2 separate regions of the Homo sapiens genome follow, and region 2 is reported to be linked to region 1. Evidence: microRNA targets listed by miRTarBase, many of them from high-throughput screens and not tested one by one. Region 1 holds a microRNA gene; the other region holds the end of a gene's coding sequence.

Region 1 (4,355 bases):
AATATATAAACATTATTTAACATTATGCATTTTATATATATTAGAAATTCTACCCTGTAAAAATATATTTCTCAAGGGGCCGGCATTCGGGGGCGGGGGGGGCAATACATTTATCACACAATATGAAACTTACATAAGACTAGATATATCTATAGTCTTCGTGCTGTGCTGATATATAAATTCCAAGTTTCAGCTGTTAGTTACTTACTTGGAGATCAGTAGAAGGAAATTTCAGTGTGACAAGAATGTTGACAATCCCTGTGCTATCTGTACTAGGATCTAGTTCCACTGTGCTCTTCCAGGGAAGGATGTAGCTGTGTATGCAGGTTTTAGTTGGACAGTCATCTTTTTCTAGTGGCAGTTTCCCAGTCGCTGTTCTGTGTATTAGGACCACGGGAGGAGAGAAAAGGTTATTCTTCCTTCTCCATTTTTCCACACTTAAGAGAATTTAATATACTGTGTTTTCTAGTTAGTAGTTAATTTTGTGTAATAGTCTAGAGATTGCTATACAGATTTAATGTGTTTTACACTTAGTTGGGCAAAAGTGTATTAGTATCTACCACCAACCAGATCTAACTACATAAATATATATTATATAATTATATTAAGGATAATTTGTGGGTTTTGCGTGTGAACCCTAAAAATCTGAGCCATGTCCCAGTTAATTTAGAAAGTTTATTTTGCCACGGTTGAGGATGCGTGCCCATGATACAGCTTCAGGAGGTCAGAACCCGAGGTGGTCAGAGCAGTTTGGTTTTGTACATTTTAGGAAGACACGAGACATCAATCAGCGTGTGTAAGATGAACACTGGTTCAGTCCAGAAAAGGTGGGACGACTTGAAGCAAAGGTGGGACAACTCAAAACAGGGGGCGGGCTTCCAGGTTTTAGGGAGATAAGAGGCAAATCACTGCATTCTTTTGAGTTTCTGGTTACCCTTTCCAAAGGAGGCAATCAGATATTCATTTATCTCAGTGAGCAGAGGGATGACTTTGAATAGAATGGGAGGCAGGTTTGCCCTAAGCAGTTCTCCGAAGCTTGACTTTTTCCTTTAGCTTAGTGATTTTGGGGCCCCAAGATTTTCCTTTCACATGAGTTAATAACTGTCCAGTCTTGTGAAATATCATTTTAATATTAGGATATCTGAAATGTTTCCATATGGCTGGGTGTGGTGGCTCACGCCTGTAATCCCAGCACTTTGGGAGGCTGAGGCCTGAGGAACACTTGAGCCCAGGAGTTTGACACCAGCCTGGGCAACATAGTGAGACTCTATCTTTACAAAAAATAAAATTAGCCAGGCGTGGTGGCGCATGTCTGTGGTCCCAGCTACTTGGGAGGCTAAGGGAGGAGGATAACTTGGGCCCAGGGGCTTGAGGCTGTAGTGAGCCATGATCATGCTACTGCACTCCAGCCTGGGGGACAGAGATAGACCCTGTCTCAAAATCAATCAACACACAATGACAACAAATAAATGAGATGTTTCTACAGATCACTTTGTTTTTTTAGAAACACTAAATTAATTAATTAATTTAGTTATTGAGACGGAGTCTTGCTCTGTTGCCCAGGCTGGAGTGCAGTGGTAGGATCTCGGCTCACTGCAACCTCCATCTCCCGGGTTCAAGCTATTCTCCTGCCTCAGCCTCTCAAGTAGCTGGGACTACAGGCATACGGCACCATGACCGGCTAATTTTTGTATTTTTAGTAGAGACCAGGTTTCACCATGTTGGTCAGTCCGGTCTGGAACTCCTGACCTCAGGTGATCTGCCCGCCTCGACCTCCCAAAGTGCTGGGATTACAGGCGTGAGCCACCGTGCCTGGCCTAAAAACACTAAATTTAGTAAGGTACTGGGGTGCAGTTTTGTCACTGACAGTTATGGTGCTGTAGAAAGAGCCCATATCTGGAAGCTGCCTTTAGCCTCAGCTCTGCCTCTTGCTTTTGTACCTTGGAAAAGTCACTTCACCTGTTTTCTCATCTATATAGGATGAAGATCATAATTTCTTTTACACAGTGTTATGAGACTGAATGACAGAAATTAAAAGAAGTGTTCTACGAAGGCAAAGTTAGGTTTCTTATAGCAGGAAGGGAGATGCACACAGAGAAGTGGGAATCTCAGGAGACGGATGTGGCCAGGGGCTTTTTACGGGGGTTGGGCTAAGCATTATTAGTCAACGGGCTGTACTGCTATTTATGGTAGGTTTTGAATACCGTTTCTCCAAAATAACCTATTTCCTCCCCAAACCCAAACTTCCTCAACTGGGATCGAACTCAATCCTACAGCGTGTTCTGAGATTCTATACTCGCCTCACTTCTCCCAAGATCGTAAATTCTGGAGGAGCCATTCCTTCATCATCCATGTTTGCATCCTTCACACCGTTCACTGGTTAAGTGCTTAGTACGTTTGCTATTGGGCAAGGTCCTCAAACGGGAGGTGGACGTCAGAATAGTCAGGTTATCGACTGAGTAACTGTTAGTGGTGGATAATTTAAAGCCAATTTGAAAGTTCATCCTTTCCCCCAAAGGCAAAAACAGGCGTTCCTTTTCTTAAAAGAGAATTTTAAATAGAATTGGGTCTCTGGTGTCCTGCCTAAAGCCCGCAAAGAAAGAGGGTACGGTTGGGGGTGGGGGTGATGGGGGATACTGAACCCTTTTCTGGTTGCGCCTTGCCCGGAGCCCCCGGCTAGAGCCCTGGCGCTCCTGGCGCGCTCCCAACGCGAATCGGTGACTCCGCAGGCCGCGCAGTGCGGAGGTGCCCGTCCCACCCTCCCCCTTGTGGGGTGCGGGGCTCCATTTCCCCAAGCCGCTGGGGTCGGCTTCTGGTCTTGAGATGCGGATGAAGTGGTGTGAAGGGTTGGGCTTTTTTTTTTGTTCCTAAAAATGCAACGAACAAAAAAAAAAGTACAACAATCCAAACCCAACCATCTTAATTGCACGGCAGCTTAACTGGGAGACTTTCTTCCCGGGCGGCCCCACCCGGGACCGCGCCGCTTCAGTCGAGCCCACCGTCTGGGCAAACGGCGTCCACTTCCCGGAGCCGCTGCCCAGCCTCTGCGGGGGGGCTTTGGGCGGGCGCAGGACTCTGGAAGGGAGAAAAGCCCGCAGCCCGGCCCTCCCCGTCCCAGGCGGCCCGCGCGGGTGGACGGCGGGAGCAGGCGGCGGTTGGAGACGCCGGAAGGAACGCGGTCTCACCACCCGGCTCCCTCCGCCAAGGCGAGGCGCGGCCGGGGAGGCGGGACACAGGCGAAGCGGGACGGGGAGGCGGGGCCGGAGGTGCAGGCGGAGGCGGGCGACGGGGAAGGGAGGGGGAGGGGGAGGGGAAAGGGAGGGGGAGGGGGAGGGGAAAGGGAGGGGGAGGGGGGAAGGGACGGGAGGGGAGGGGGAAGGGACGGGAGGGGAGGGGGAAGGGACGGGAGGGGAAGGGGAAGCGGGAGAGGGAAGGGGGCGGAGCTAGCCGGAGCCGCGAGTCCATTTTGGGGCTGTGCTTGGCGCGTACCGTGCGGTCCCTGTAGTTGGAGGACGGGCGGTCGCGCGGCCTTTCCCACTAGCCGGAGGTCGGAGATAAGTACCCGCCGCCCGGCTCCTCTCGGGAAAGCGGGGTGGTCCTCGAACCTTCAGCGAGGGTGGGGAGTTGCCCAGGTCAGCAGGGATCTGCGTGGGTTGGGGGGGCTGGCGAAGGCCGTCTGAGCTCCAGTCCGGCAGCGCGGCAGAAACCAGCGGGGCACTGTCATGGGCCTGGGGAGGAGCGGCCTGCGGAGGGCGCCGGGGCAGTGTGTCTGTGGTCCAGAAAACCTGCTCCGTCCGGAGCCTTCCTGGCCCCGCTACCAGCGTCTCCACATCCCCTAGAAAAGAAAAGACGGGTGTGGGCCTTAGGTTACAGCGCGCCGCCAGCGTTTGGTTGCATGGCGCCGGGGGAGGGCGCCCTAACCGAGAAGCTGCTTAATACAAAGAGCTCCAGGCTCCTGGCGGTTCACCAGGTCTAAACAGCCGGGCTTTATTTGTGGGGGCGATTGAAAAAATTGAGGGTCAAGATTGGGGTGCTGTGCAAATAAATGCGTTAATACTGTTCTTTTTCTTCTTTCTTTGCAGTAGCCTCTAGTTCGTTAGTCAAAACGTGAAAAAAAAGACCTGCTTTGCCCTGGGAAATAGTAACCCTGCCAAATACATCAGCTTGTAGGAGACAGAGGTAAACTACAATAATTTTCCTGTGTTATCTTTTTTTTTTAAACACCCAATTTCAATAGGCCCTAGAACCTTCCAAAATGGAACTGTGTGTAGAATACGTATGTTCCCATCCACTTTCATTGGTGGTCTTTGTTCTTTGCATATTTTGTTAAAACTTAGAAAAACAGAATTCACGTT
Region 2 (4,166 bases), not on the chromosome of region 1:
GGCTGGGGAAGATTGCCATGGGATTGGAGATGAGCTCCAAGGACAGCCCTGGCAGTCTGGATGGAAGAGCTTGGGAAGATGCTCAGAAACCACAAAGTGGCTGGTGCGGTGGGAGGAAAACCAGAGTGTATGCTGTCCTAGAAGCAAAAGAAGAAAGTGTTTCAGTGTTTCTAGGAGCAGGAAGTGATCAACAGCCTTAGATCCTCCTTTTAGGCCAAGTAACATGAGGACTAAGAATTGACCACTGGATTTAGCAATGCAGAGGTCCTTGTGGCCCTTGATGTCGGCAGATGAGGGCAGTGTGGTCCAGAGATGAGGCTTGGGGCTGAGATGCAGCCCCGCTGCCTGGTCCAGCTCCTCCCTCATCCAGGCAGGGCTCCCCCGCCCAGCAGCCACTCCCCTCCCTGCCTGCTCATGGCCCCCTGCTCTCCCTTTCCTCCCCATACCCCCAGACCTGTGCTTGCCCGGGGAGAGTCAGGGCTCTCCTGTCAGCTGGGTCCCCTCCCAGCCCCGGGAGGCCGCCACTGGAGCCCTGCCTCTTCCTGGCAGGGAGCATCGAGTACAGCTGTCCGGCCTCCAACGAGTGTGAGATCACCAAGCGGAGACGCAAGGCCTGCCAGGCCTGCCGCTTCACCAAGTGCCTGCGGGTGGGCATGCTCAAGGAGGGTGAGCGCTGGGCAGGGGCTGGGCGAGGGCTGGGGGAGTCGGGGACCCGGGCCAGGTGGGGGTGAGGCCTGGGAGTTCTGGTGAGTGGACTCGGGGAGGACAGCTCTGGAGAGCAAGCCCCACCCTGCCCACAGCACCACAGTCACAGTCCTATCTGTCCCACAATTCAAGGAGTGCGCCTGGACCGCGTCCGGGGTGGGCGGCAGAAGTACAAGCGGCGGCCGGAGGTGGACCCACTGCCCTTCCCGGGCCCCTTCCCTGCTGGGCCCCTGGCAGTCGCTGGAGGCCCCCGGAAGACAGGTGAGAGCACTGTGGGTACCTGGGGCTACGAAACCGGAGGCCTATGTGTGGCATCATAGTTACCTTGGGCACTGGGACCTGTATTTCCCCTTCGTCTCTTCACTCACTCATTTCCCCAAGACATGTGAAACTGCCTTTTCCTGCATCAGGAAAAGTAGTAGAACTGGGAACAGGGACGATTTTCCAACACTCACAGCCTGTCCACAAACACACGGGCTTTCCCTGGGAGACAGTTAGCGCTCTTCCCTGGAGGGAAGTCACTGGACAGCTGCTACTGAGGAAGGCCACAGGGGGAGCCACTGTGGGAAGATGCTTGACCCCTGAGGCCTGACAGATTCGAGTGCTCCTGACTCTTGTCCTCTAATTGTCACAGCAGCCCCAGTGAATGCACTGGTGTCTCATCTGCTGGTGGTTGAGCCTGAGAAGCTCTATGCCATGCCTGACCCCGCAGGCCCTGATGGGCACCTCCCAGCCGTGGCTACCCTCTGTGACCTCTTTGACCGAGAGATTGTGGTCACCATCAGCTGGGCCAAGAGCATCCCAGGTAAAGGGCCCAGGTGACCCGGGGCTGCCCTGAACGGGCCCGGCTCTGGTGCGCTTGCTCAGCCAGGCCCGCTCCCCGCTGCCCCCTAGGCTTCTCATCGCTGTCGCTGTCTGACCAGATGTCAGTACTGCAGAGCGTGTGGATGGAGGTGCTGGTGCTGGGTGTGGCCCAGCGCTCACTGCCACTGCAGGATGAGCTGGCCTTCGCTGAGGACTTAGTCCTGGATGAAGAGGGGGCACGGGCAGCTGGCCTGGGGGAACTGGGGGCTGCCCTGCTGCAACTAGTGCGGCGGCTGCAGGCCCTGCGGCTGGAGCGAGAGGAGTATGTTCTACTAAAGGCCTTGGCCCTTGCCAATTCAGGTGAGTCTGGGGCAGGCACTGACAGGTGAGGTGTCTCCGTAAGGTCTTCAGGTTAACTCAGTGACGGTAGCACAGCCCCATTTTGCAGATAACGAAAACTGAGGCTTAGGGAAGAACAATGACTTGCTAGAAGTCAAAAAGCAAGCCAAGTGCAGGCTCCAAACTGCACACAGGATTTTGAGCCCTAGTGCCACACTAATGCAGAAAGGTCATTTAGTGGGAGGGAAGGTGGGGAGGGTACAAGGTGGCCACAGTTGAGGGAGAGAGGGTGGGGTCCTGGCCCACGAGCCGCAGCAATGAGTGGTGCCTCTCAGTCAGCCAATCAACAAATCCTCGTTTGGCTCTTCCTTAGGCCCCATCCAGCAGTGCTCAAGATACGGGGAGTGCCCTTGCCAGAGATAGCCCAGGCCAACACCACATTCCTCTCTTCTTGCAGACTCTGTGCACATCGAAGATGCCGAGGCTGTGGAGCAGCTGCGAGAAGCTCTGCACGAGGCCCTGCTGGAGTATGAAGCCGGCCGGGCTGGCCCCGGAGGGGGTGCTGAGCGGCGGCGGGCGGGCAGGCTGCTGCTCACGCTACCGCTCCTCCGCCAGACAGCGGGCAAAGTGCTGGCCCATTTCTATGGGGTGAAGCTGGAGGGCAAGGTGCCCATGCACAAGCTGTTCTTGGAGATGCTCGAGGCCATGATGGACTGAGGCAAGGGGTGGGACTGGTGGGGGTTCTGGCAGGACCTGCCTAGCATGGGGTCAGCCCCAAGGGCTGGGGCGGAGCTGGGGTCTGGGCAGTGCCACAGCCTGCTGGCAGGGCCAGGGCAATGCCATCAGCCCCTGGGAACAGGCCCCACGCCCTCTCCTCCCCCTCCTAGGGGGTGTCAGAAGCTGGGAACGTGTGTCCAGGCTCTGGGCACAGTGCTGCCCCTTGCAAGCCATAACGTGCCCCCAGAGTGTAGGGGGCCTTGCGGAAGCCATAGGGGGCTGCACGGGATGCGTGGGAGGCAGAAACCTATCTCAGGGAGGGAAGGGGATGGAGGCCAGAGTCTCCCAGTGGGTGATGCTTTTGCTGCTGCTTAATCCTACCCCCTCTTCAAAGCAGAGTGGGACTTGGAGAGCAAAGGCCCATGCCCCCTTCGCTCCTCCTCTCATCATTTGCATTGGGCATTAGTGTCCCCCCTTGAAGCAATAACTCCAAGCAGACTCCAGCCCCTGGACCCCTGGGGTGGCCAGGGCTTCCCCATCAGCTCCCAACGAGCCTCCTCAGGGGGTAGGAGAGCACTGCCTCTATGCCCTGCAGAGCAATAACACTATATTTATTTTTGGGTTTGGCCAGGGAGGCGCAGGGACATGGGGCAAGCCAGGGCCCAGAGCCCTTGGCTGTACAGAGACTCTATTTTAATGTATATTTGCTGCAAAGAGAAACCGCTTTTGGTTTTAAACCTTTAATGAGAAAAAAATATATAATACCGAGCTCAAAAACACTGTGTTTGGTGTCATTGGGTCAAGGGTTGGGGATACACACGGCAGAATTCGGAAACAGGGTATAGATCAACAAAAATACACAGTCATAACAAGAAAAACTGGCGCCTGGCACAATCAACTCTCAGTTTCCTCTTCACTCAGCAGCATGTTGGGGATCCCGCGGCTGATGGGGAACATACGTCCAGATTCCGGGCACTGCAGGGTGCCCTCTATCACTTCCACCTGCGGGCAGGGAGGGACAGAGCTGAGCACTGGCAGCCTCAGTGCGGGAGGCAGGTGGCCCGGGAAGCAAGTGATGGGCCGCTTCTCACCTCCAGCAGCAGGTGGTGCATGGTCCTCAGAAACTCCTCATTCTCCTCATATCCCTCAACCGGCCCTTTCGGCACCTGGATCAGACGCAACTGTGGGCAAGAGGCCAAAATTATCTCCGGGCATCCCGAACTCCCGCCTCAGCCCGGCTGAGGTGTGCCCGCCCCGCATTCCCCGGGATATGCTGGGGCGGGGTAAGGATCCTCACGTTATCGGCCGCCTCCAGGAACGCCGACCACTCCACTTTAGGTATCATACGCGCCACGAAGTTGGGGTTGAATTCCACAGGGCAGATACGGACCTCGGTGGCCTGCAGGGCGGAGGAGTTTAGGCAAGCACTGGACCCCGGCCCACCATCCCGCCCGAAAAGGGAAGACTGCCGCCGGCGGGTACCTGGAGGCGCAGGGGGAAGCCACGGGACCCCACCCCCCGCACATGCGAGCTCAGCAGATTGTGGGTAAGCAGTTTCATGTCGCCGCACAAACTCTCGCCAGGCCGGAACCGGAAAAAGG

What was found. The annotated mature microRNA hsa-miR-3613-3p reads ACAAAAAAAAAAGCCCAACCCUUC and lies in region 1 at 2,842-2,865, opposite strand. An mRNA with a match to its seed (bases 2 to 7 or 8) in the 3' UTR can be bound and repressed. Matches are read on the target gene's strand: a 7mer-m8 pairs with bases 2 to 8, a 7mer-A1 pairs with bases 2 to 7 and ends in A, and an 8mer does both.
Region 2: the mRNA of TRMT112 is a reported target of hsa-miR-3613-3p. Seed matches in the 3' UTR shown: 7mer-A1 at 3,336-3,342.

The regions. Positions count from the first base shown.
Region 1 is chr13:49,993,585-49,997,939 of GRCh38, forward strand. It overlaps MIR3613 (microRNA 3613), which reads right to left and starts at 2,917; the gene lies at 2,831-2,917. TRIM13 (tripartite motif containing 13) reads left to right here and starts at 3,458. Exons shown (of 2, transcript NM_213590.3): 1 at 3,458-4,179. DLEU2 (deleted in lymphocytic leukemia 2) reads right to left here. Exons shown (of 14, transcript NR_152566.1): 11 at 3,490-3,835; 12 at 209-377. RefSeq lists silencers at 2,425-2,474, 3,065-3,194 and an enhancer at 2,755-2,884.
Region 2 is chr11:64,313,402-64,317,567 of GRCh38, forward strand. TRMT112 (tRNA methyltransferase activator subunit 11-2) reads right to left here and starts at 4,158. Exons shown (of 4, transcript NM_016404.3): 1 at 4,048-4,158; 2 at 3,863-3,964; 3 at 3,657-3,746; 4 at 3,059-3,567. The coding sequence starts at 4,125. The coding sequence ends at 3,460. It overlaps ESRRA (estrogen related receptor alpha), which reads left to right. Exons shown (of 7, transcript NM_004451.5): 3 at 550-666; 4 at 838-966; 5 at 1,340-1,510; 6 at 1,600-1,869; 7 at 2,306-3,342. The coding sequence ends at 2,565. RefSeq lists an enhancer at 2,662-3,177.